3 separate regions of the Homo sapiens genome follow, and regions 2 and 3 are each linked to region 1. The links come from fine-mapping of genetic effects on gene expression. A gene starts in region 1. Each other region holds a variant in brackets. All regions are shown on one strand. Distances are between the middles of the regions. Region 1 holds the start of SPTA1 (spectrin alpha, erythrocytic 1). Region 2 overlaps SPTA1 (spectrin alpha, erythrocytic 1). Region 3 has its middle 6.1 kb from the start of OR6K6.

Evidence for each region. PIP is the estimated chance that this variant, and not a neighbour inherited with it, causes the effect. A credible set is the group of variants that fine-mapping cannot tell apart.
Region 2: its variant is the best candidate, but not a certain one, in a credible set for the expression of SPTA1 in whole blood (INTERVAL, PIP 0.55).
Region 3: its variant is the best candidate, but not a certain one, in a credible set for the expression of SPTA1 in lung (TOPMed, PIP 0.55).

The regions. Positions count from the first base shown.
Region 1 is chr1:158,681,133-158,692,721 of GRCh38, forward strand. SPTA1 (spectrin alpha, erythrocytic 1) reads right to left here and starts at 5,583. Exons shown (of 52, transcript NM_003126.4): 1 at 5,362-5,583; 2 at 3,976-4,215; 3 at 2,239-2,364; 4 at 395-535. The coding sequence starts at 5,385. RefSeq lists a silencer at 7,430-7,644 and cis regulatory regions at 8,004-8,301, 10,799-11,128.
Region 2 is chr1:158,647,690-158,652,990 of GRCh38, forward strand. It overlaps SPTA1 (spectrin alpha, erythrocytic 1), which reads right to left. Exons shown (of 52, transcript NM_003126.4): 23 at 4,778-4,964; 24 at 3,678-3,779; 25 at 2,167-2,258; 26 at 820-964; 27 at 1-31. Among named protein-coding and RNA genes, the nearest start is that of SPTA1, 36 kb to the right of the region's middle. The variant C/G (reference allele first, on the strand shown) is at 2,998.
Region 3 is chr1:158,742,853-158,754,441 of GRCh38, forward strand. It overlaps the pseudogene OR6K5P. Among named protein-coding and RNA genes, the nearest start is that of OR6K6, 6.1 kb to the right of the region's middle. The variant C/T (reference allele first, on the strand shown) is at 9,390.

The DNA.
Region 1 (11,589 bases):
AAAACCCTCCATCTTTATAGGCACTGAGACACAAAGGATTAGAGAAAGAGCTGTCAATACTCTCAGCCAGACCCCAGAGTAAGAGCAAAAACATAGGAGAAGGAGTTAAAAATCATGGAAGTGGAAGAGAGATGAGCCTAATTATCTTTCAATGCATGGTCTTTGTGTAAGTCTTGCCTTTTTCATATTCAGATCCATATGTTAAGACTTACTTCCATACAATGTTGACCTCCAGATACCCCTACATTTTGGCCCCAATTTCCTCTTGTTCCAAAGAACAAAGCCAGGAACAGACATCCTGACTTCCTTGTGAGTAGTCTGCAGTAATTTGCTATGGGGTACCTGGGACAGAGGAGTGGGAGGCCCTGTGTGATTGCTGTTTTAAGTTCGATACCTTGTCTCCAATCCACTCTAAGATGTCAGCACACTCCTGTACATACTGCTGGAACTTCAGGGCCCGCAGCAACTGGTCACCCTTCTCCAGGGTCAGCTCTAACAGCAGGTCCCACAGGTGGCGTAGCTCCTCTATATGGGCCTTTAGGAAAGAGGGGCAAAACCACTCAGCCACAGACACTGGGAGCAGGGAAACACTCAGAGACTTGTGCAGAAAGAGACCTGGATAAAAATTCTTCTCTCAGTTACTCATGCATTAGTTGCTCAACAAACATTTAAAAGAGGAAATAGGATAGATATATGGAAATAGCTAACAAGCCAAGCCAAATGCGATCTTACATAAGAGAACAATTTGTAAAAATGCTTTGCAGTTTTAAAGGATGGAATAATTACAAACAATAAGATGGGAAGGAGGAAGAAAGCATGGAAAAGTGTTCATTTGAACTGAGCCTTATGGAGCAGAAAGATTTTTGACAGGTCAATCATAAGCATAACATGTTCTAAGAAGAGCAAACAGCAATAGCAAAGGCATAGGAGAAACTTAGCATGAATTGTCTGCCAGAAAGTGTGAGAGCTATAATTTTTATAAGTTATAAGGAAATCATTGGCACCGAAACAATAACAGTGTTTTGGGACTATACAGTTTGAGAATCTACAGAGGGCTTTGAATGCCAGATTAACTCAGAACATTATGTATTACCTGTCTTATATAACTGAAATTGCCACCTATGTCATATCTTCAAGAATCTTATATTTTTCAACTACTCCATTGCTCTGGGTAGCATGTGGACCACATATGTCGTTAAACCCCGCAATGGTACCATTTGCTATAGCCCCAGTGATTCTGACAGAAATGAAGATGTTTCAAACATTTCTCAAATATTGTAATTAATGTAGATGCTGGTTACATGCAAAACTGTGCATAATACAAAAGTTAATTATACTTTATACAAATAAACAAGTTTTGAAATTTTCCTTTTATGGGTTCTTCTTTAAAATAAGATTCTATTCTGGCTAAAATCTGTGTCCGTTGACCATATTTTGATGACAGAATGGGCTAGAATTTTTATGCTATATATAGAAAGGCCAGACCCAGTTTTAAGATATATAATGCAAATTTGTTTTGACAATTAAAAAAATACATAAACAGTAAAAAGTTCACTCACACACAAAAAAATTGAATTGACAATATTAGCACAAACATTTGGAAGAGTTCGTAGATTAAGTCCAAAAATAGCTGTTACATTAATAATAGATTACAGAGTATGAATCCTTATTGAAATAGTGATGATCTTCATTTCTAGATGTTCAGAGAAAATTTTCTGACTACATGACATTTGGGAGTTTTTAGAAGTAATAAGAAGGGACAGTTTGGAGAGGTGCAATAGTAGTCATAGGGTATGGTGTATGAAAAGAAAGAGGCATCATAGACAAAGGAAAAATATTTTGGAAAACATTCAAATGAGAGAGCATTCCTTATTTGGAGAAGTTAAGAGACAAGGACATTGAGGTTAGAGGAAATAATTAGAAAGAACATTGGAAAAAACTAATTGATCTGGATAATGTGGAACAGGTTTAAGTGGGCTTGATCTTGAGCCAAATTATCCTGCACTGTTATAGGAGGAATTTTATGCCATTTAATGACAGCTTTAATATCACAGCTCTCTTCACCCCAAGAAACACGAAGATATCCCATCATTTTTTATGCCTCAACCCCAGGGGAAGATAAGAGGCAGGAGTCCTGGGTATAAGCCAGCCACTCAAGGTTTATATCTCATATAATCAGTTAAAACCCTGATAACATAATCAATAATTGGAAACTTCTTCAAGGGCCCATACATATACCTTCGTTTCTTCGTGGGCAGAATGACCCATGGTAAATCGTTCTTCCCTTGTTTTTTCCAGTTCAGACATGAGTCTTGATTTTGTTTGCACCTCTGCTTCAAGGGATTGATGCTTCTGATATTTCCCCTAAAGTTTAGAAATCAGAGTTTTTGTCTAATGAAGCACAGTCTTCATGGGAAATGTTCACTCTATGTAAAGCCACCAAACACAGGTTCTCAAAGGGTCCCAGACTCAGAGGCCATAAAGAGTATTTTCCTGTCCCCACTGGCTTTAGGAAGTTTTCAGTAAATACTGTCCTGAGCTATGCTGAGCCTTATGATCTATGCCGAGCCTTATTTTAAAGGCTCAATAGACTGCCATAGGAATAAAAGAGTGTAACACACAGTGTCCTTCCTCATCAGAAAAGAGGAATAACTGATTTTTTTTTGGAAGTAGAGCACAATGAGAAAGATGATAGTTATAATAATGGTTTTTAAAAAAAAAAATTGAGAGTTTTTTTTGCATGCTGTGCCTGTTCTTGTAATCTATAAATTGATCCATTCAATATAGCACATTATTTTGCTCTTGTTCTAGGTGTTTCCTGTCCAACATCAATTGCTTCTGATTATGACAACACCACATGCTATAATTTTAGGTGAATAGAAAGGGGTAGGCACTTTCACCAAATTTCTTCTACTGAAACCTCTCTTTTGAAGTTAAGAGCCATGAATAGCAATTTAGGGAAGAAAAAAAAAAAACTCTGGTTAACTCATCTCTCTGAGAAGAGTAGAGAACAGGTATCACATGCTATAATTTTAGGTGATCAGAAACGCGTAGGAGCTTTCACCAAACTTCTACTGAAACCTCTCATTAGAACTTGAGACCCATGAACAACATTTTAGGAAAAACTTAAGAGCCATGAATAGCAATTGAGTTAACCAGGTTAACTAAATTGGATTTTAGTTAACCTGGTTAACTCTTATATTTCTGAGAAGAGTGGAGGACAGTTGCTTCAGAAGCATTGATGACTCTTCACCCTATTTCCCTTCTTAATGTCCCAAAATATCAAAAATCACATGGTTTGTCAGAAATTTCTTGAATTTGCAGTTGCTGTTTTGCCTGTAGGTCAATTTCAGATGAGTATTGTAACCATCAAATTCTATACAGAATAAATCTCCTTTGCAAATAACACCCCGATGTTTATGAAGATGAAGACATGGACTATTTAGAGGCAGAATTACTGTTTCTAACAGACAGTCTAATTTTTCCATTACATCACTCCCACTACAATTAACCAGATATACACTTACATTACCATAATATTTGTGCTGGATCTGAAAAAAAATTGATGTAATTTTTTACTTTTGGCATTGATGAATGCTTCACCATGAAAATATGTAAAGTATCCTATGCCCTTATCAATAAGCAATATCCTTGGTTAATGATTAAAAAATGTATATTCTGAATGGAAGTTCATTGTAAAAAACAGTTCTGTGCTTTCAACAACTGAAAAACTGCTGCTTTTTGTTTGATTCTTATTTTCTCAGTCTCACCTCTCCAACTTCATAAGGGAAAATGCACTTTTAGATTTTCTATTAATTTATTTCTTTAACTTCCCACTCCACTGACTTATTTTTGTTTCTAAACGGAATCTAATTGTACCCACACATACCCATTAACATTAACATAAAGAAAAACCTATTTCCTTCTCTAGAGATCTTAGGGTCTGCTCTGAGGCAATCAAGAGAACTGAGTGACCTGTATATTAGTTGGGTCTTCATAGCTCTTATCGGTTAAGATATTGACTTTCTCCATGATCCACTTCCCCAGATCATCTGCATCTCGCTTGAAAACTTGTAAGTGATAGGAATCCTCAAGCTTCTGACCCCTCTCAGCGACCCGCTCCTTGAAACTTTGATACCGAGTCAACACTTCCTGACGCCTCTCCTGGATCTCTTCTGCTGTTTCCAAAACCTTTGGCCCACTGCTCTCCACAACCTGCAAGTTAAAAAGATTCTGTTACTTGCTAGTTCTCAAATATTTAACATGTTGCCCCGCTTATATGTGTCAAGGTGTTTACTCATGTTGGACCTATATTCAGATATCCTGAAGTTTCTAGGGACTATTGTCAGAAGAGCTGTAGTATATTTACGTAATTTTTAACCAGACATAGCTTCTGTTTAGGTTAAAAATTCTTGATTATCCAGAAGACTCTCCTCACTTTTTACATAAATTTGTGCTAGCATTTAAGTTCTATAGATATAATTATATTGGACTGATCATGGAGCAAGTTTAAATCAGCAAAATCACATAATTTCAGATAGATAAAAAGAAATATAATGTTATTGCTTTCAAGGGCTAAAAAGGTGTTGAGAAGTGCTTATTATTTTTAACTTAATTTAATAAATAATTAAGAATGGCTTGCAATTAATTTAGTTAATGATATATGCAACAGTTTGAAAATTTTGTTTCCTTCATACTTAAAAATAAATCTCATATATTTACTCTTTACTTGCTTTACTCACAAACACTATAAATCAAAAGTTCAGCTATCTTCTGCCCAATTGTCACAAATTTCAAATTATTAGCATGTCTGCAATTTATTTTTGAAATATAAAAACTTTTACTCTAAAACAATATATAAGTATCCTTTTCCCAGAGTGGGAGCCAACCTGTTTGTGACAATATCCAGCAAAATCACCATAGGGTTCACCTTCATTCTTCTGGATATGGATACCATTTTCCCTAGCTTACCTCAGCCAAAATGTTTAATATAGAGTTTAAATTTTAATCTCCCATTATTCCTCCTAAGTATAATTGCTACTCTGTGAATTGCCATTACTGGCATGGCTATAGAATTAGATCATTACATGGAGACTCACGTTGTTACTAGGTGTTATTTAGCTTCAATCTCCCTACTTATTCTCTCTGGGAACCGACTTAAGTCATTACTGGGTCTTGGTGCTGCACAGACATAAGCTCAAGGTTATTGTTCACAAAAAATAGTTAAAAGTAAAATTATCTATTTGTTAAAAGCCAAATAATTATTAATGTTCCTGGGAAAGATAGTATAGAAAGTTTAAAGGAAACATCTTTCCTAATAATATTAATGACAAATTGCATGGAAGAGAAATATGTACTTACGGTTTCCTTTGGAAATTGCTCCATTTTTCCTAAAGGTTTAGAACCTGGCAAGATAAAATGTGTCAGAGAGAGAGAGAGAGAGAAATAATTCAAATGGAACTGTCCAGTCGAATTCAAATAGAAATATAGAAACGTTAAGTATGTGGGGGAAAAAAAAAAACCTCTTGCTTGGTCCTAGAATCCCATCAGCCATACACAATCGACATTATCTTTAGAAGACATACTCAGCTGAGGCAACTGCTAAGTTTTACAGATACTGGGTGACTCAGCAGTTTTGGGAGGCTCTGGCTTTCAAAGTTACTCAATAAGACTTAAAAAATGAAAGTAAGGTTTTTGGATGAAAAATTAGAAAAAAAACCCCATATATTTATAGGAAATACAGCTCAACAACTTCATCCAACTCAACTGCAGATTTTTCACAGTCTTTAAGTCAACGAATTATCCTGGCTTTTTCTAGAGAGTCTTTCACAAAATAAGATTTTATTCCTAACCTCAACAATTTGGTCTTTAAAAATCTGATTTAGTTGTACTCTTAATCATTTAAATGGAAGGAACAAAAAAAGTTATATGATGTGTTCATTAATATTTTGTAAAACAAAAATTAGGATACCTTATTTGACAAACCAATGATGTCACAAAAAAGTTGAAAATATGGCTGACTTCTGATATATATGGTATAAATCATCCTACTGTATGTATTAATTTTAATGGAGAACAAAAAGAGGTAGACTTTTTCCATAGGCATAGTTATTTTAGACTAACTTACAAAAATGAAACAAACAAGCAAAAAGAAAATAGTGGGATGCTCTTAGACCTTTCTACAAGCCAGTGGGGCTATCCATGCCAAACTTCATTCCAGTGTAAATGCAGCTTGAATAATCTAACTTCCATGATCTACAAGAGAAGATTTTGATTCTACATTTGTGGTTTCCCCTGTTCTTGGATCTCACATAGAAAAACTGAGAGTCCTTTACATTCTCTTCTTGAAAGTCTGGATTACTTTACTTTTCCATATAGTTTCATTATATTCAAGTCAAATTTAGTAGTAAAGGCAGGAACATAATTTTAGAGACTGCACTATAACACATGCACTGAGGAATATTTGTCTGAAGTTGGGATAAGGAGAGGAAATTATTTTATCTTTAAGAGAAAAGAATCAACATCTATGAAATATTTATATATTAACATGATCAATTTACATTAATTTCTAATCTTTAAAAATTCTGTGAGGCAGGTATTATCATACCCGTCTTTATGTGAGAAAACAGTCCCTAAAAAACAAAGTTTCATTCTATGGTGATTTGGTTTGAAAGTATTTAAATAGTCAAATCCATATCAATATGATTATCATGGCACTCTGCTCCTTATTTTTTTAGTCAATCTTCTCTTAGTCCATCAACATTATTTGTTCTGTTTCCCTGTTCCAGAATCATCTTAGCAAGAATGCCAAACATGTGATAACCTTGTGACCAAAGAAATAGTATGGCCCATTGTGAATAGTGCCACAATATACATATGTGTGCATGTGTTTTTATAGTAGAATGATTTATAATCCTTTGGGTATATAGCCAGTAATGGGATTGCTGGGTCAAATGGTATTTATGGTTCTAGATCCTTGAGGAATTGCCACACTGTCTTCCACAATGGTTGAACTAACTTACACTCCCACCAACTGTGTAAAAGCATTCCTATTTCTCCACATTGTCTCCAGCATCTGCTGTTTCCTGACTTTTTAATGATCGCCATTCTAACTGGCATGAGATGGTATCTCATTGTGGTTTTGATTTGCATTTCTCTAATGACCAGTTATGATGAGCTTTTTTTCATATGTTTGCTGACTGCATAAATATCTTCTTTTGAGAAGTGTCTATTCATATCCTTTGCTCACTTTTTGATGGGGTCATTTGTTTTTTTCCTGTAAATTTGTTTAAGTTCCTTGTAGATTCTGGATATTAGCCCTTTGGAACCAACCTGAATGCCTATCAGTGAAAGACTGGATAAAGAAAATGTGGTACCTATACACTATGGAATACTATGCAGCCATAAAAAAGGATGAGTTCATGTCCTTTGCAGGGATATGGATGAAGCTGAAAACCATCATTCTCCACAAACTATCACAAGGACAGAAAACCAAACACCACATGTTTTCACTCATAAGTGGGAGTTGAACAATGAGAACACATGGACACAGGGAGGGAAACATCACACCCTGAAGCCTGTTGCGGGGGTGGTGGGATAGGGGAGGGATAGCATTAGGAGAAATACCTAATGTAGATGACGGGTTGATGGGTGCAGCAAACCACCATGGCATGTGTATACCTATGTAACAAACCTGCATGTTCTTCATATGTGTCCTAGAACTAAAGTAAAATCATCACAATAAAAAGAAAGTAAAAATGCTTACTAATTCTATAATGTTTATTTTAAAAAAAAAGAAATAGCATGGCCCAATCAGCAGAACTGATCATAAGGAAATAAAAGTGTCTTTTCAACATATGTGTTGGAAAAATTGCATATTCACATAAAAAAATGAAATTGGACCCTTATGTTATGTACAAAAATCAACTCAAATGGGATTAAAGACTTAAATTACAACCTGAAACTGTAAAACTCCTGGAAAAAAAAAAACACAAGGAAAAAGCTTTATGACTTTTATCATATATAATAAGAATTATATATTTAGTATTTTATACAGTTTTAAAAGGATGGGGATAATTTGGAGGGCTGTTGTATCTGGCCATGGTTATCACCTCAGGGAGGGTTTGTACTTTACATAGTAGTTTAATCAGCACTGAACAGCTTGCCTCAGCTGCTGCTCAGGCATCAGAGCAAAGTGATCTGTTTGGTCTTGCCAAGTACTTCTTGGATACGGTACCAGAAACAAATGCAACAAAAGCAAAAATAAACAAATTGGACTACATCAAACTAAACATCTTCTGCACAGCAAAGAAAACAATAAGCAATAAAAAAAGTTCTCTTATGGAATGGAAGAAAATATTTGCATACATCTAACAAGAGGTTAAAATCCAAAATATACAAGGAGCTTCTTCAAATCTATAACAAAAACGAAAATTAGAAAATGAGCAAAGGACTTGAACAGATGATTTTCCAAAGAAGACATACAATTGGCTAACAGGTATAAGAAAACGTGCTCAACATCACTATCAGGAAAATGCAAATCAAAGCGATACTGAGATATTATCTCACATCTGTTAGGATGGCTACTCTCAAAGGAATAGAAAAATAAGTATTGCTGAAAATATGAAGAAGTTGGAACAATTGTACACTGTTGATAGAAATGTAAAATGGTGCAGCCACTGTGGAAAACAGTGTAGCATTGCCTAAAAACGAAAAATAGACCTATCATACAATCTAGCAGTCCCACTTCTGGGTATACAGCCAAAAGAATTAAAATCAGGATTGTAAGGAGGTATTTGCACTTTTGCACTTTTATGTTTATCTCAGCACTATTAACAAAAGTCAAGAAATGGAAACAATTGAAATGTCTATGACTGATGAAAGTGGCATGTACATACAATTGAAATAATTCAGTCATAATAACAAATGGAATCCTGTCACATATGACAACATGAGTGAACCTTGATGAAATTATGCTAAGTGAAATAAGCCAGTCACAGAAGGACAAATACTGCATGATACCACTTATAGGAAGTATATAAAATAGTCCAACTCATAGAAACAGAGTAAATAGTGCTTGTCAGAGGCTGAGGGAAGGAAAAATAGGTATTAAGTAGGTATGAAGTTTTATCCATGAAAGATGATTGAATTCTAGAGCTGTGCTGTACAACACATTGTATAAGTGTTAACAATACAGTATTGTACACTTCAAAATGTGTTAAGAGGATAGATCTCATGTTGTTTCTCACCACATTAGAAAAAAAAGTGTATAAGAATCATAGTGTTTGTTTGTTTGGTTGGTTGGTTTTTGTTTTGTTTTGTTTTGTTTTGTTTTGTTTTGTTTTTTGAGTTGGAGTCTCACTCTGTTGCCCAGGCTGGAGTGCAGTGGCACGATCCCACTTCACTGCAATCTCTGCCTCTCAGGTGCAAGTGATCCTCCTGACTCAGCCCCCCTAGTAGCTGGGATTACAGGCATGCACCACCATACCCGGCTAATTTTGTATTTTTAGTAGAGACAGGGTTTCATCATGTTGGCCAGGCTGGTTTCGAACTCCTGACCTCAGGTGATCCACCTGCCTCTGCCTCCCAAAGTGCTGGGATTACAGGATTGAGCCACCGCACCTGGCCAGAATCATAGTCTTTAGAGCAAAACTGCAATATGGAAGTACACAGGAGACATTCAGGGGAAGGTTTTGACACATAAAAACTGTTGAGTTCCTTGAGTTTTCCATCATTGTAGGCAGCAGAGATTCATGTAAAGTTTGCTCTGACAGTACTCTGGCTGCTGCTCTGGCATTTAGTGACTTAAAATTCAGTCCCATCCTGCACTCAAAGTCCCTTGAAACTAACATTGATTCTCCAGTCTCTAAGCATTGTTTATGATTATTAGTGCACATAACAAGGCATGTCGCTGAGATAGAAGAAAGGGCATGATGGAAAAGTCTTATACCTTGGTGGTTTAACGCTTGGACCTCTGACTTTCTTCTTCTACTTCTACAATCTCCCAAGAATATTCATTGGCTCTGATCATATAGAGACCCTTATTTAAAAGGACTCAGGAAAAAAAAAAATGGATGGAAAATACCATGGAAGTATAAAAGGAAGTACAATCTATAAAACTGCATGCCCCAAATGCCCATCAATGATAGACTGGATAAAGAAAACGTGGCACATATATACCATGGAATACTATACAGCCATAAAAAAGAATGAGTTCATGTCCTTTGCAGGGATGTGGATGAAGCTGGGAATCATCATCCTTAGCAAACCAAAAGAAACAGAAAACCAAACACTGCATGTTCTCACTCACAAGTAGGAGTTGAACAAAGAGAATACATGGACACAGGAAGGGAAACATCACACACTGGGGCCTGTCATGGGGTGAGGGGCAAGGGGAGGGAGTGCATTAGGACAAATACCTAATGCACGCGGGGCTTAAAACCTAGATGATGGGTTGATAGGTGCAGCAAACCACCGTGGCACATGTATTCCTATGTAACAAACCTGCATGTTCTGCTCATGTATCCCATAACTTAAAGTAAAATAAATAAAATAAAATGAATAAAAACTGCATGCTATGCTATATACATTGGTGCTGAGAGTTTACAGGAGACACTAGGGTTTGTTACAGACAGATTATTTAAAGAAAAAATTGGAAAAGAGTTCTATTTTTTATTAGAGAATTACGAACTTGAGTAATAAGTAAATTTTCAAATAAAGTTAAGGGGTAAATAATCTTAGAGGACCTGAAGTGAAAAAAAAAAACAAACTTTATTTTTTGAATTGTATTATCTAAATGCTCTGGCCCATTTAGAAGTCAAAAATTAGAGAGATTTTAAAATGAGAATTATATATTTAGATATATTTTACACCACTTTACAAGGGCAGGAATAATTTGGAGGGCTGCTGTATTTGGCCATGGTTATCACCTCTGGGAGGGTCTGTACTTTACATGACAGTTTAATCAGCACTGAACAGCTTGCCTCAGCCTCTGTTTAGGCATCAGAGCAAAGTGATCTGTTTGATCTCCTAGACTCAGAAACTTAAAGAGATGCTTTATATCCAAAAATTCTAAAGTCTTCTCAACTGGAATCACTAAAATCCCTACCTGTTTTCTGTGGATCTTTTGGAGTTCAGCTTTTTCTGCTGATTACCAATAAAGACAAATATTTTAACTTAAATGTAAAACTATTTTTCTCATAAAATTTTTATTATTTTAAATTTTTACTTTGTGTTTCTCCAGAAATAGTTTTTATTTTAAAATTCCTCCAATTTTGACTTATAAATGAGTTAGAACAGTAGATAATGTCATTCAAAAAATTTTACAAGGCCTTTTGCAGTTTACTGTAGCCACCTTGATTTATCACTTTAGGTCTTCTAAGGTTATTTGTCCCTTGACTCTTTGCTTACAGAACTGCAAACTTGAGCAATGTATAAGTTATCAGATGTATATATTGCTCATTTATAATTCTCTAATCAATGAAATAGAACTCTTTTCTTTTCCTATCTTGATCATCTCTCACTTTCTTATTTATTTTATTATCTTTCTGTTGACTTATTTGGTTTTACTGCTTTGAGTAAGAAAAACCC
Region 2 (5,301 bases), 37 kb before region 1:
GCCGCTCTGCTGTCTCCCCCAGTATGGTCACCTGGGGAGGTACAATAGCTCTGATAATCAGCCTAGAGACACACCTGAATCTTAGCAAAAGGAGAATCCTGAGTCCCAGTATTCAGCTCCTCAAATAGATATCAGTGATGTACAAGTATGTCATCATACTTTACAAAATAATATCAACCTTTTAGTCCACATAACTCCCTAAGGTAGTTACAATTGGCATTACCATACTTCTTTTTAAAAATAAGAGAGTTGTGGGGAAGAGTGGTTAAGTGACTCTGCTGGTTAGTGGCAACCTCAATTAGGAAACCCAAGGGTCTTGATTCTTCATGTGAGGAGCTTCTTTTTGCTCTGCATGATAATGCCAAGCCTCTGAGTATATCTGACAAGCTCCAGAGTACACTTTTGGGTTGAAACAGAGTTAAACAACTCATTCAATTCCTTGCTAAGAAAAACATGCACCATACTCAGATATTGGCCTGATCATCCTGGGTATGGACATTTGCTATTTCTTCTGGGCTACTGGCCTCCACCTAGCTGCCACAAGATCTGGTCACTTGTAACCCACCAAAGAGGCAAGGGGATATAGGGTGCTCACTCAGACAGCAGGAGTTTAACAAGTTTTTTCCCCATGTTAATGGTCATGGGGCATATCCTTTTCATGGTCTTGCCTTAGGGACAGTGTACAAGAATAAATATGGCACAGAACAGAGAGAAATATAAGAATAAAAGACTGAAAAAGAGAACCAAAGAAGAGGGCATTGGTATACGGCTAAATATAGACTGGAAAGTGTTGGAAAAGCTTTGAAGGACTTGTCTCACCTTATCTCCCAGGGGTACGAGGTCCCTTTCAAAGCCCTCATGCCGTCGCTGAAGAGCCTGAACACTGAACAGATCTGAGCCAGGGTCTGCAGCACTGAGGGCCTGGCATTTCTTCTCAATCTGCTCCTTCGTGTCATCTGCTTCTCTGGTATACAAGAGAGTAGAGAGTTCAAAAGTAAGGATATGTACCAGAGGCAGGCTAGTGGGGGTCACAAGAAAGTTATCATCACTACCACTCACCATCCTCCCACCCACCCCCCCACCCCAACCAATTATCATCATTGTTTTTTATGTGCTAGAAACTTAGGCTCATTTAATCTTCACAACTCCAAGAAGCATAGTTACTATTACTATTCCCATTAAATAGATCAGAAAACTGAGGACTAAAGAGGGTAAGTATTTTCTCAAGATTATACCACTGCTGAATGGTGGAGCCTAAGCTTGAACCAGGCCATCTGACAGCAGTCACATGCTTAACCATCATATTTCCATAGCTTTCTATCTTAAGCATTCTACACACACAGACCTGTCTGAGTCTGTTTTTCCTTCCCTGCATCATCAAAAATACATTTATACACAATGAAGGTGTTTAGTTTCTGTTTTGTTTGTTTACTTTTTTGTATGTGTCTTTGTGTTTCTTAGTTTGAAAATCAAACAAGAAAAATGTTGAATGAGCTGATAGTCAATGTGATGTCTGTTGCCCTCTACTGTCAGCTTCTAGTTGAGAAATGTAATTACTTAAACCTCCTGTTTCAACTTCAAGTTTCTTTCTTTCTGTTTTGATTTTGAAGATAAGGGTCTCACTCTGTTGCAATAGGCTGGAGTGCAATGGCTTGATCAAGGCTCACTGTAGCCTCAGCCTCCTGGCTCAAGTGATCCTCCCAGCTCAACCTCCCAAGTAGTTGGGACCATAGGCCTGTGCCACCACACTGGGCTAATTTTTCATTTTTTATTTTTTTGTGGAGACAATGTCTTGCTTTGTTGCCCAGGTTGGTCTACAACTCTCGGCCTAAAGCAATCCTCCTGCCTCGGCCACCCAAAGTGCTGGGATTACAGCTGTGAGCCACTGCCCTCAGCCTAAGTGTTATTCATTTTCATGGAAACATATATAGACTACTAATTATGTTCCAAGGCCCAAGCCTAGGCTTTAGAAAATTGAAGCTAGTTGTCTGGGAGTATCCTGTTTGTGAAGTGAGAATCATACTACTAAAAAACCTAATTTTCTATTGGCACATTGTCTCCATCTCACGAAAAAAGATTATACTATGGTTCCACCATAGTAATAGACTTAGAAGTTTAGTGAGTGGGTTTTAAAGCAGCACTGCTTTTTAGAGTTATAATTATTACCTGTGAAACACTTCAACAGCATGGGCACTGCCCAGCAGCTGCCGCTGTTCATCTGCAAGCCTCTGCAAAGAACCCCAGCGGGAATTCAATTCCTAAAAGAGGCAAAAACATCAGACTTGAGACAGAGAACTAACTCACATGGCTCAGTGGCGTCTGAAGACCAGACAAGATTTAAAACATAGTTGTTTTTACGTTATTTTCTTCAGAAATTGCATAGCTTTGCTTCTTTCTTGGACAGCTTGAGCTTGGGCCTCATTTTTGCCAGTGCAGCAGAGAAAGTGATTTCTTCCCAAACTGATGTTAAAGGGTGAAACCATCAACTCCGGAGCAGTAAATAAGTGCTTGCTATTACAAAGACTGCACTGTAAACTCCAAAAAATGAATGGGAAGTGTTGCCTTGGTAGTTAGAAGTGATCACATTTCTCTAAGACAAACAATTCTGTATTCTGAATTGAATAAACCAGGTAGACTTTTAAAGCCCTACTTTCTATAGGGGGTAAGTACATTGTTCCGCTTCGTATTTCTTCACCTTCTTATCCCATAACAACCACTATAAAAACAGGCAGAAAACTCATCCTCACTGACTATGGCATTCCAGAGAACTAGACTGAACATTTATTAATGTTCATTAGATCTTTTATGGAATCATAGATCCAGATCTGAATCAGGTCAAGAATGGCCTCTCCTCTGTCTCTACTGACCTATATTCTCCTTCTTCAGCACGTTGATCAGAATCTGTGTCTTCCAGTAAACTTTCTTGATCAACCTCTTCCCACTATCATAGCTTCTTTATCTGCATTGTCTTTGAATTCATGTAATTGAGAATTTCTT[C/G]TGTGTGTGACAGTGAAAGAGAGGTGAGTATGTGTTGTAATTTAAGAATTTTAGATCAGTTCAAATGTATATATTCCAAAATTGCAGTTCAAATTCAATTATATTATTGGGTGGACATGTAAGGAAAAAACTTTACGTTTAATTTGGTGTAGCCTGGTACAGAAGATTAAGAGGAGGTTTGGATATTGTAATTTGGATATTGTGCTATCCAATATTTGCTTTCAGATATAGAAACTGAGGTTTTTAGAAATGAAGAGACTTGTCTGAGGACACACAGTCAGACAAGAATACAGCTATGATGTAAATCTAATTTACCTAATGTCCAGTGTAATATTATCTAAACCTCCTAATCCTGCCTTTTAAAGCTACATCTTAATTTCTGCTACCAATACTTTTGTCTCCTTTCCCACCCCATCCATGAAATGACATATGTGAGGGCATGGAGGACACTCAATATATGTTAACAAATGAGCCTGCTTTAATTAAGTTAATTTAGACAACAAAAATACAGGGACTATTTGGGCTATTGTCTTTGGCCTTTCCTGTAGCTAATTCCATACTGCTGTTACCTTCTGCATGTTCTAGTGGGTCTGCAGAATATAAAGTTCCATGTTGAAGTGAAATGAGGACTCCCAAAGCCCAACCTGGTAGTGAGGAGGAATGGAGGGAGCCTTAGTTACCTGCCGGATTTGAGCTCCTTCTGGTGTTAGAAGTCCTTCAAATAGTAGATCATCAGCTACCTTGTTGATATCCCTTAGCCGAGGCTCATTGGTATTCAAATCCTGAATGGGAAAATTCATCCAAAGCAGTGTAAATTCATCCAAAGCAGTGTAAATCCCCTCATCAAGAATCTACCATACTTACCTGTCCATCTCTGCCCCTACATCACCGTAATACACACCAAGCTCCTCTCCTCCAATCCACCACTGAGAAGAGTATCCTTAAAGATCTTGACACCTAGTGGCTGTCCAAAACTTGTCAAGATAACTATTATTTATCTGTAGTATGAAGCACAGCCATTTTTCTAGATTTCTTAAAATCTCCCCTGGATTAAATTATACCATTAGAGGGATTGATACCTGAGCTGTGTAACATCCTTTTCTACCAGTACAAACTCCAGCTTTAAAGATTTCTTTAACTGAGTTATTATCTGCCTATATTATGAGATATTGTAAGAAACAGCTCTAGGGAGTGCTCTCTCTCTCTCTCTCTCTCTCTCTCTCTGTGTGTGTGTGTGCGCGTGTGTGTGTGTTAAATCCCACGTGGAAGATATCAAAAGAAAAAGAAAAGAAGGAATGTACACTCACTGCTAGTTAAGATAATGGAAAAAAATCTAAGGGAAGAAAGAATATTGAAAGGGTTTTAGGTAGGCAAAAAATTAGAAATTGTTTGTCAAGTCAGGTTCTTCCTTCTTCCACCCCAAACTCTGCCCCATAATTAAACTTTACACATGGTACAACAATACCTTATCCCAACCTGGGCACTGGAAACAAAGTATAGTATAGGGCAAGTTGTGAAGAATTCAGGAAGACCAGCACTCCAGGGAGGATTTTGGAGTGGCAGGCACTGAAGGCTGCAGTTAGGGTAACTAGTTTTCTCTGCATTTCCCTTCCAATTATTAGCAACTACAATACCTAGAGGGAGATCTCAGCCACAGAGTTGCCAATAGCTTTGGGGAGAATATTTAACAAGTGTGAAATAAATTAAAAGATCATGTAGAATATGCTGAGGGATAAAAGCAAACAATGGCAACCTTCAAGAGAAGGTTCCTCTTTCTCACCTTTTGGAACTCATCAAACTTTTTCTGCAGCTCCCAAACATCATCTAGTTCCACTCCAGTGTTTTCTGCCTTTTTCTCTTGAATCCATTCCAGCATGTCTCCTGCCTCATAGGCCAATAAAAATTCATTATAACGTTGCAATAGACGACGTCTGCGTTCTTCTGCCCGATCCAAGAGGGAGCGGTATCTGGATGGAGAATTGGGAAAAGTGGAATAAAAGAAGGAGAAAATACAGAAGAGTAGAGGCTGAGTGACAAACATAGAGAAAGAAGGAACAAAAATGAAAGGGAAAACAAATCAAAAGCAAAAGAATAGTAGAAGAGAGGAGGAAATAAACTTAGAAGGAAAACAGCCTTGGGGGCAAAAAGATAAACACATAGGATTGCATTTAAAAATAGTAAAAATGCCAGTGACCCAATAGTATGACTGGCAACATTCCTTTCCCATTTCATAAAAGTGACATTTTTACATGGTAACTGACAATTGGATATGAAAAGCCTGGCATAGTAAACAAAGTTCATATA
Region 3 (11,589 bases), 62 kb after region 1:
GCCAACTGCAGCACAGGTTCAAAGTCACAAAAGAGTTGATGAATTTGGTTGGCGCCACAGAATGGAAGAGTGGAAATGCACACAATCTCTGGCAGTAACATGAGGAAGCCAAAAATGCAAGAGCCAGTGGAGAGCTGGATGCACAGTCAAGGGGACATAGTGATTGCATAGCGAAGGGGGTTGCAGATGGCTACACACCTGTCAATGGCCATCACTGTGAGGACTAGGGCTTCTGTGACCCCGAGTGAGTGGAAGAAGTACATCTGCAGGAGGCAACCTATGAAAGAGATGGTTTTCTGTTCACTGAGAAGGTTGGAGAGCATCTTGGGGATAGTCACGGTGGTGTACCAAATCTCCAGGAAGGAGAAGACACTGATAAAACTGTACATAGGATTATGGAGATGGGGGTCCGGTTGGACAGCAAAGAAAATCATGAAATTTCCAACAAGAATGAATATATAAATAAAGAGCATAGGAATGAAGAATAAGAGGCTGCCATTCTTAGATTGAGGAAAATCAGAGAAATAAAACTCAGTCACCATTGTCTGATTCTCTGGATCCATATTTTCAGCGGTTTCACTTGTTGGCTCATAAAACACAGTCAACATTCTAAGTACATGCAAAGAACAAATAAAAACCTTCTTTTCAAGCAACTAAACAGCCTTGAAATTAGGCTGGTTAAATAAAATATACTATGTGAGTCATTTTGCAACATATAAAGTTATCCTGTCAAATTTAGTAATTATAATAACTTATGTTGTCAATTATTCTGTTGGATAAGCTAACAGTATTGCTAGTTAGACATATAAATTGGTACAAACTCCCCTGAATGGCAATTTGGCAATTTATATTGAGAGTTTAAGACTGTTTAGAGTTTAAGCCTTTCACTATGTAGTCTAGGGGAAATATTTCAGATATTAAAAAAGAAATATATGACAATATTAGCTAGAACATTTATTATAACAGTAAATTAGGAACAATTTAAGTAAGTAGACATTTTCATTTTTTTGAGATGAAGTGTTGGGGACACAGAAGAATGGGTCATGACAAAATGATACCCTCTGTGGATAAGAATAAACTCATTTTTAAGTGCGCATGTTTGAAACTAAAGTATGATTAGCAGCTTCCCTTAGTCTGACTCATTATTAACAATTGAATGAAAAGAAAAAATCCAAACATTCCACCAAATATTATTTACTTTAAGACACAAGAGGCTAATCTCATGTGACATATATGGGTATACAAATTAATCTAATCTACACTCTAAAGGGGGTGTATTAGGGTTCTCTAGAGGGACGGAACTAATAGGAGATATATATATAGTTAAAGGGAAGCTTATTAAATATTAACTCACACTATTACAAGGTCCCACAATAGGCTGTCTGCAAGCTGAGGAGCAAGCAAAGCCAGTTCGAGTCCCAAAACTGAAGAACTTGGAGTCTGATGTTTGAGGGCAGGAAGGGTCCAGCAAAGGAGAAAGATGTAGGCTAGGAGCCCAGGTTAGTCTAGTCTTCTCATGTTTTTCTGCCTACTTTATATTCTAGCCACGTTGGCAGCTGATTAGATGGTGCCCACCCAGATTAAGGGTGAGTCTGCCTTTCCCAGCACGCTGACTCAAAAGTTAATCTCCTTTGGCAACATCCTCACAGACACACCCAGGATCAATACTTTGCATCCTTCAATCCAATCAAGTTGACACTCAGTATTAACTATCACAGGGAGTTAGTTAATAGTTGAAGTGAGCTAATCTAGAAATTACATTCTAGGTGTAATTTGCAACATTTGAAATACTTTAATCAATAGTCTACCTCAAGAGGCAGTTTTGACAAGGGCTTCAAATATTCTTATCTGTATCCACACTGTAGAGTTTATTAAATAATGTAAAGCAGGTTTTGTCAATTTCAGCATTATTGACATTTTGAAACAGACAATTCATTGCTCAGAGAGAAGGCAAGGCTGTTCGTGCATTATAGAATGTCTAGCAGCCACCCCTGGTCTCACCTATAAGGTGTCAGTAGCATAGACCCCTCCCTCGTCATGACTACCAAAATCATCCTAGAAATCACCAAATGTCCCTGCAGGGAAGAAGTAGAAGAAAATTTGTGCCAGTTAAGAACCACTGGCATACAGAAATTTTTTTTAATGAAAAACCAGGTGATCAAGATACGTTGATTGGCTGAAAGTATTCCTAACCTCTGGCTTGCAGGGATATAAAACAGGATGAGCTAGGCAGCCTATAGAGCTTGGAGAGGTGCAATAGGCACATGATCCATTCATTCCTGTGTTCCCTCCTTAAAAGGGTATTTATCACCTAATCTCACTAGAAAGTTAGCTTTTCTACTGCAGAGAATTTTATTACATTTTATCTTTGATAGAAACCTTCATTTATTATACTAACCAGAAAGCATAAGGAAAAAGAGTTGAGACTTCCATGAGCTTCCAAGAAAAGGCCTAATAGTAGTATGTTTTTGCCTGTTTGCTAATAAACGTTTGTTTGCATGGCAGAATTCTGACTCTTCACTTGGTACTGAGGTGAAGATGGGACCTCTAAATGGAGAAAGCTACTGATATCTACCAAAAAAGTCAGACAACTCTGAACTGCCAATGGATACAATAAATAGATAAAATTATTTGGAAACCGTAATGCCGGAGGCTATACACAAGTAAGAACCCAGCTTGGCATATGGCAACCACAATTTTTTTTCTCTTGCTTTTTATACATACAGCAAAATAGTAAGTCTATGTTGAAACAGGAAAATATGAGGTGAAAATTCCCTTGTTTTTCTTTAAGAAAACTTTTACATAAGAAATGGAGGCTCATAAAAAATAATTTATACTCTAGCAATTTTTACCTTAATTACTCTTATCTGGGCTTATTGTTTCCAGACTTGTCTTACTACATCTCACTTTCACATAGCTACTGAAATAATCTTTCCTAAATGCAAAGCTGTCAATCCTCTGTCTGAAAACCTTATACTGGCTCTCTGTAGGGTTCCAAATCAAACCTGAGCCTTTAAGCAGAACAGATAATATGGCTGTATATGAGATTGTAAAATTATTTTGTCATCCCAATATCTTATGACTGTATTATCCCCAACAGGCTTTCCTAGTATGATAGAAAATGATACCCGTGTAATTGTTCTGTGTTCTGCTTACAGAGGCAGTAGGGAGACAAACAGGGAAAGAAGCATTAAGCTCTATGTCCAGTACCGTTTGGAATTAGAAAATTGAAATCTGGAAATTTTTGTTAAAAAGGTAGGTCTTTAGGAACTTGAGTCTTTAAGAAGGAAAGAGGATGCCTATAGGAAGGCAATTTGATATAGAGTCTTGGGAGCAAAGTTATACCTAATAGGACTCTCCTATTTTCTGTAGGAATGGATACCCCAGAATCTCAACCAGAAGCTCCACTAGTTGTCCTGACATTCCTTTATTCTTAAGAGCCTGTCCTGATGCCACTAAATACAATACAAACCTAGATTAGAATTTAGCTCAGAAAATAGTAGAGTTGTGAAAGAGTCATAGAGCTAGTGGGCCAGACACAATTTGACAGATTTAGTCCAGGTGTTTGTTATCTTACGGCAATCTCTAATTGTAGGACAAACACTCACCAAAGCCCTCCATCCCTAAGTTATGGTCCTTTCCTCTACCTCATGTGTTGTCACAATCTCAACAAAATTTCCACAAGTCCTTCTTTAAAGTCCAATAGGAAATAATATGGTTCTGTGAAAATTGTCCCCCAATATCTAGTAAACAAAGTCATTCACTCATATCTCAAAGTAGAAAGTCCACCCATCAGTCCATAGCTACCTCTTCCAGAAACCAACAGAGCCACCTCCTCTTTTCCAAATGTCTCCATCTTCATTGCTCTGCAGCCCAATAAGTAGGAAGGTTGTAACCACAGCCACACCTCTAAGCATCACAGGGAATTGCTAAGTGGGAGAAAGGCTTTCTTCTAAAGGGCTCTTTCCTGGGGGGCTTAGGGAAAAGCAACTCTATGCCCCATGAGACTAATTAGGAAAACACTTGCTGACACACTCCCCTTTCATGAGGTCAACACACCTATGGGAAGCTAGGTTTTTCAGTCAGGCTAGAAATCAGATGAAAAGAGTACTTGGCTTTCCATTCTGTCCAAGGGGTAAAAGAATAGTTTAAATTACAAAATCTGCTGAGAAAGGGAAAGGATAAGGAACAAAAGGAATGAAACTAACGCAATGTGGTTCAAAGGCAGGAGAATTTTCTCTACTCTTTGGAGCAGTTTAGTGATCACACAGCACAACCCTGAAGTGTATTGCAGAAGATTCAGCCAGCTGCCATCCAGCACAGCTTAGTAGAATTTCTTCAGAAGGATCCAGGGATCACAGGGCCATTTGCAGTAGTGGCAGTAATGAGGGGGCTCTCATGAGATTTCATGGGTTTCAGGGGTTCCAGCAGCAGATATCCCAAGTGTATGGAGTCAGGAAAGGATTGAAGGGCAACCTTTCCTGCTACATGAAAGCTGTATTGATGAGCACACATGAGCTAGACCTTGGACAGACCTGAGGAAAAAAAAAAAAAGGGCCCTCATATAGAGGACAGGAAATAGAAGCAGAAGGATACTTTTCTAATTCTTTTTTTCCTACTTTTTAAAAACTGAAATTGGACTTAATATTAACCTCCAGGTGGGTAAAGGCAGAAGAAATAGACATATACAACACATAAGATTTTTTTCTTCTATCACAAAAAGAGATATAAAACAATCACGAAGTGTTAAATGTTTAGTGGAACAGTAGCAGTGGATATAGAAATGCAACAGAATTTGAAAGCATATTTGAAATTAGAAAAAAAAAACTTATGAGACACAGGCATATATGGTGCGAAAAATGAGTCAGAGCAGAGGTGACTTTCGACTCTGAATGATTAGATTTTTAATAGGCGATTTTTAAGGCAGATCCTTGAGTGGAGGCAGGGGGACTGATTGAGGCCATGACTTCGAGGCTGCAGTGCACCGTGATCGCCCCTGTAAGCAGCCACTGCACTTCAACCGGAGCAATAGAGTGAGATTCTGTCTCTAAAAAATAAAAATAAAAAACAATAACAATAAATAAAGACAGTCCCTCAATAAGCATTCGATTAAGGAATATGTAGCTAAATAAACGAATAATTAAATGAATCGGCGAATAGCTAAAGAATCAGATAGTGACTCAAAGATAGTCTAATTTGTAGCCACACTGATGTTTACTTTTTGACCCTGATTTTATCCAGTCTTACCACTTAAGATAAATTCCTCCTCTTACGCTTTGAACCTATTTATCTCATCTCATGCAGAGACACTGTTCCTTCAGTTGTCTCACTTACCTATGTATCCTCCAAATTTTCCTCTTTTTAGTCTGCTTATATAGCTTATGAATATGCTCAAACATATTAAAGTATATACTCTTTCTCATTTTCATTGTTGCTCTAAGTCTGCCATACTGCCTTTCTTCTTCCCGATCTTATTTTCCTAAAAGCATAGTTTACTCTTTTATCAGTATTTCTGTCTCCACCTTTTCACTTCTTGTTCACATGAACCTACAACCCCACTTAAGAGATAGAATATTATGAATAACTTTGAAGACCACTACACTTTCCTCCCCAATCCAGTTCTTTATTGCCATATTACATATTACCATTCACCTGAATTTTGTGTTTATTATTCTATTTAGCACATGTGTGCACACTCAAAAACAATATACTGTTTAGTTCTGTTTTACTCTATGTAAATAGAATGGTATTTTAGGCATTACTTTATAATTTGCTTATTCACTCAACATATGTTTTGAGAATCATTCACATCAATGTATCTAGCTGCAACTTTAAAAGAAAATCCCTGCTGTCTTGTATAAATGGAGCACAATTTAATCATTCATTAGCCTTCAACGTTTTGTATTCTGGAATATTTGCATCTTCAACTTCACTAGATGCTGCCAAATTGTTTTTCAGAATCTGTCTACCACCAACAATAAATGCATTTTTATTGTTGCACATCTTTTCTAATGTTCTGGGTGGTCATATTTTTGCTACTCAGTTGTTGTGTAAACAATATGCTATTGCTTTGATTTGCAGTTGAATGTTGTATGTGTGTATGTGTGAGTGTGTGTGTGTGTGTGTGTGTACTCCTCATTTGGTTGTTTATCTTTTTCTTATTACTTTGTAGAAGCTTTTTGTATATTCTAAATAAAAATAATCAGTTATAAACGTTATTACAAATACAGACTCCTAGTGTATATCTTGTTGTTTTTCTTTTTAATGATGCTATTTGATGAAACGAACTATTAAATAGTTTTATTCATCAGTCTTTAAATTTATGGTTTATATTTATATGGAATTGAAAAATTTTAACTAAAGTTCCAATACAATTGATTAAACAATGCACCTTTTTCCACAGACCTGTTGTGCTGGCTATGTTCATCTTTTCCCCAGTGGTCTGCTATACCTACTCTCACGTATGTTAAAATCCCATACTATATTAGTCTATTTCTTTGCTTCCATTGGCTGTTTACTCCCACTGCTATTTTATTACAAATATTGCTTCATAATAACTTTTACTAAATAGACAAGTGGCACCATTTTAATCTCCTCCTTTGAAATGTCTTCTTCTTGGCCCTCATTCTTACATATCCCACTCCTCTCTACTCAAAATGAGATTTTGATTGAAATTGGGTTGAAATGATTGACTTGTAGATGATTGGCATGTTTATGTAACTGAGACATTCTATTCATTCATACAGCATATGGATCAATTTATTTATGTTTTTGATATAGTCCAATACAGTTTTATAAAGTGCTATGTTTAGATGTAACATATCTTTTACAGTTTTTTATTTTTGTTGATACTTCAAATGGCATCTTTTTATTACACTTTTTGTCAACTGTTACATATAATAATGCAATGTTAAATATATCCATTTGTATCTATGCACTTGCTGAACTTTGTGTTATAATTTGTCTTTATTTTCATTTGGAAATTTTATATCATCTTTAACTAATTTCATTCTTTCTTCTTTATGGTCTTAATGCTGTGTGTTTCTTTTTCTTATTTTCAAAGTTTTACTTTTTATGATGGACACCCATTTTTAAATATATATCTCTTTATATAGGTATATATACATACCTATGTATATAATTTTTAATGGAGATTAAGATATATTATATAATATATTTAAATTTTATTTGCTGAGTGTTACAAATAATAATAGAAAAATCATGCTGCTGTAAAGACACATGCACACGTATGTTTACTGCAGCACTATTCACAATAGCAAAGACTTGCAACCAAGCCAAATGTCCAACAATGATAGACTGGATTAAGAAAATGTGGCACATATACACCATGGAATACTATGCAGCCATAAAAAATGATGACGTTGTGCACATGTACCCTAAAACTTAAAGTATATAAAAAAAAAAGAAAAAGCTAGTCGAATTCCCTATTTCACCCAGTGATTGTTTCTTTGTTCCTGTAATTCTCTCATTTGATTTCTGCAATACATCATTGCCTTGATTCTCTCTTCGTTTCCTGAACTCTTCAGGATAAGACAATAAGATAGACCTAGGTTCAAATTCTTACTCTGCCACCTGCTTAGCTACCTGACTACAGAGAAAATACATGGTCATTAAACTTTAGTTTTCTCATCTGTTAAGTGGAAATAATAATGACTAATTTACAGAACTATGAAAGGATAAAATGAGATGAAATATAAAAATGCCCTAGCAGATTTTGTCACATATTTAATAAATGAAAGTTATTTACTATTAATACCATTTTTCTCTCACCTACCTATTGTAATCCTCCAGTCTCTTCTCATATTCCCTAAATTCTTTTTCAATTATCTAGTGCATTCTCATAGTTCAATTATAATCTCTACTTAAATAACAGACATCTGTGTCCACAGATGTGTCCAAGAAGAGACTTGTCATCTCTTCTGAAATCCAATTCTTCATCATTAATGGCAAATAGACATTTCTACTTAAAAGTTCTCTCACATTTTCAAGATAAAATATCTATAACTCATCTTCTTATAATTGCCCCTACAAGCTTTTGCTTTAGCTGGTCCTATATCTGTCGATAGTGCCATCTAACAGACGAACTCAACCTTATGAATCTGTTACCTTTAATGTTCCTTTTACCATCATAGCACAAATATAATCAGGTGTCGGGTCCTATTGATTCTTTATTCACAATTACTCCCATCTCTTCTGTCCTTTAATTCCATTATTACAGTTCTATTTTAGGCCTTTACTCCAGATTATTGCAGAATAGGCTCTGATGTCTGATAGGTACTCAGTAAATGTGAGTTGAATAAATAATACTTCCTACTTCCATAATTTCTCTACTTAAATGCATTCTACATATCATCAACGCAATTTTGTGCATTAATTCCAACTCAAAAATTATCTCATAACTTTCCGTTATGTGAAAAATATGCTTTCAAAATCCCAATGTCTGACATTCAAAGACCTCCACACTCTGCCAAACCCTACCTTCCAGTTCTGTCTCTTCCCTATTACATTCCACATGCCATATGATTGAAGCCAGGCGTATGTGCTAAATAATCTATAAACATGGATCTTGTATTATCACCTCAAAATCCTAGTTGATCGTCTTCTATTAAACATACACTACCTGAGTTTAGGTAAGTCTTAGGGCTATGCATTAAAGGTTAAAATATAAATTAATATTGATAGATAATCATCAAATTTCTTAGAATCTAGACTTATAACTAGATAATTTTAACAACAGGTGTAGGCACTAGATGCTTTACAAGCACAAAAAAGAGACTCCCTGGCCGGGGATGGTGGCTCACGTCTGTAATCCCAGCACTTTGGGAGGCCGAGGCAGGCAGATCACCTGAGGTTAGGAGTTCAAGACCGGCCTGGACAATGTGATAAAACCCCGTCTCTACTAAAAATCCAAAAATTAGCTGGGCACTGTAAGTTCCCGCTCTGGTCTGAGGGACTGGTACCCCAGCCCCCAGTTTTCAGGCCCTCCCTGGCTTGAATGTGGGACCTTACCAGGGACCTGCCCCCTTCTGCCCAGGAATCTGTCTGCTTCTGTTGCCATTCATGGCCCCCAGGCTGTAGGTGTGAAGGGGGGCCTGCATGCCAGCTCTGAGATGCCCTCTGTGCCCCCTGGGCTTCCCTCCTATGCTTCTTGGTGCCCAAAGTCTGGAGAGGGAGAAGGCATCAAGGGGCTGGTGTATCAGCACTGCTTGTAGCATGTGCATACCTGGACAGACTACAATAGGACTGGGTCTCAGCCCTTACTTTGCTCCTAGATTGGAGTGGACATTGACAGCAGGGAGAAGCCAGGCAGCAGGAGCAGGCACTTTCAAACCTGCAAGAGAAGGGGGACCTTCCCAGGACCCCAGGAG[C/T]GCAGAGGTGCCTGGGTCCGCAGCCGTGGTTTGGGTGGCTACACTTGCATGGAGGAGTGGGAGGCCATGATCCACAGTCATGACTTGGGTGGCTGTAGCCCGAACCTCCTGGGTGGGGCTTCTGCCAGTTCCATGGAGCAGGTGGCCCAGATCTACAGCCTGGGTTTGGGTGGCTGCAGCTGCGCCTGGAGGATGGGGCTCTCACCTTCTCCTTGGCCCCAAGAGCACAAGGATGCCTGGGTCTGCAACAGTGGCTTGCAGCGACACCCTGGGGTGCTCCCACCCCAACTCGGAAGGCGCAGGGCTCCCCCTTGTCCCTGGTTCCTGCCCTGGCCACACTGCTACCGTCAATACTGGCAATATATTCCTAAGTCAGGGAATATATACTTGAGACTAATCAGTAGAGATATAATTGAAAGGTAATGCTAGTGTTTAACTAGATTTGAATTCAGAGGATTAAGGTTCAGTTTCTTCCATGCCTTGTATTGCCTGTGTGTACTGGAGAAAGCTTTTGGCTTCTCTGAGCCTCCACATCTGCAAAATGCGAATCACTGTAGTCTTGCTTACCTTATACAAAGAGGTTTTTTTAATATGATGAAAAACAAATCACATAAATCTTAACCATGTTAACTATTTTTTTCAGCATACAAATAAGTTTCTTAAAGGATCAAATAAGACTTGCATTTAAAAACTTCTAAAAATATGATGATGTTGATTATATCAACAGAGGGAATAGAAATCATAGTGAAAATGAATAAAAGTGGAGAGGAAAGAGTGTTTACTGATTGAGTATTCCAGAGAATCATGATCCTGGATGAAGTTTATTCTGACTGCCACAGCTGTGCCCCAGTGCCCAGCTTTATACTCTATTCCTCTATGAGAGATAAGGTTTTATAGCCCCAGGACAACTTTTGAAACCTGACCCTGGGGAATGTCTAATTACTATGTAGCATTGTTCTTCTAATTTGTCCCTTAGAGGGGAGAGAAAGATACATAATTTTCCTTTAGACATTGCATCATCCAAAGAGAAACTCCCAGGAAAGACCATCTTTCCATTCTAGTTATTCCTGGAAGAGGCTTCAGAGACATTTGTACCCTTATTGACAGGCTAGGAGAAGAGGTGGCTGCAGAGATTTTGAGGAGCATTCTCATGGTGTCAGGCAGGGTAAGTACTAAAGACTGCATTGAAAGGGCATCATCCAACCTCCTTTTACTTCTACTTTGCCGCCCAATAGCTTCCTTACATCCTCAACTCTTCAGAACCCAACTGTTGCCCTGCTGTTTCACGGCAAACTGTCATATTTTAAGAACTTTGTTACATGAGTGAAATATTATACTAAGGGTAAATGAAATCGGGAAGGGATAACAGAAAGAATATGGTTCAGCTAACAGTTTGAAGATACTGATAATGTCTAAGGTCTTTTAAACATTAAATCTTGTTGAAACCCTAATAATTGTGGATTCTTGAAGAGTCACAGAGAAAGTTACTGCTTTTCTTCAAAGTCAAGTCTAATCTAATTCAAGTGTCTTTACGTCATACAAGAAATATTTTTAGATTGAACTCCTTGGACACTACTAAATATCTTTAACAGTAGGATTTTATTGATGGTTCTTTATGTATTTCAGGAACAAGAATAATATTTATTTACCTTTATATAGCCCTTGAACCTATGGCATCATCGACACATAGCAGAAGATCAATCGATATATGAGTGTTAGTTGAATAAATGTACCGATGATGAATAATGATGCAGCTTTACTACTGAGAAGGGCCCCGTGCGTACAGCAACAAAGTAGTCACTCTGTCTGGCTTTTATTAGCCACTTAGCACCTATTTTCTTGTATTTTGTTATAGCCCTGTGTTTCCTTCTCTGTCCTTCCATATTCTCTATAATGACTACTCAGCACGATTATTCAATTGCTTAGAAAAGAAAAACACAGGAAGGACAGAGAAGTGGATATTTTAGTCAGAAGAAAACTCCAATATCTTACACTTTTCCCCTTGGAAGCTCTGCCTTTCTGTGGCGCACTGTTGCTTGTTTCCTTCCAAAGCCTGCCTCTCCTATCTACCTTCCTCACAGTTTAAGGTGCAAGGCAGAGGCATCCTTTAAAAATTAATTTTCCTAGTCTGACAGGAGAATTTCTTGAACCCGGGAGGCGGAGGTTGTGGTGAGGCAAGATTGAGTCATTGCACTCCAGC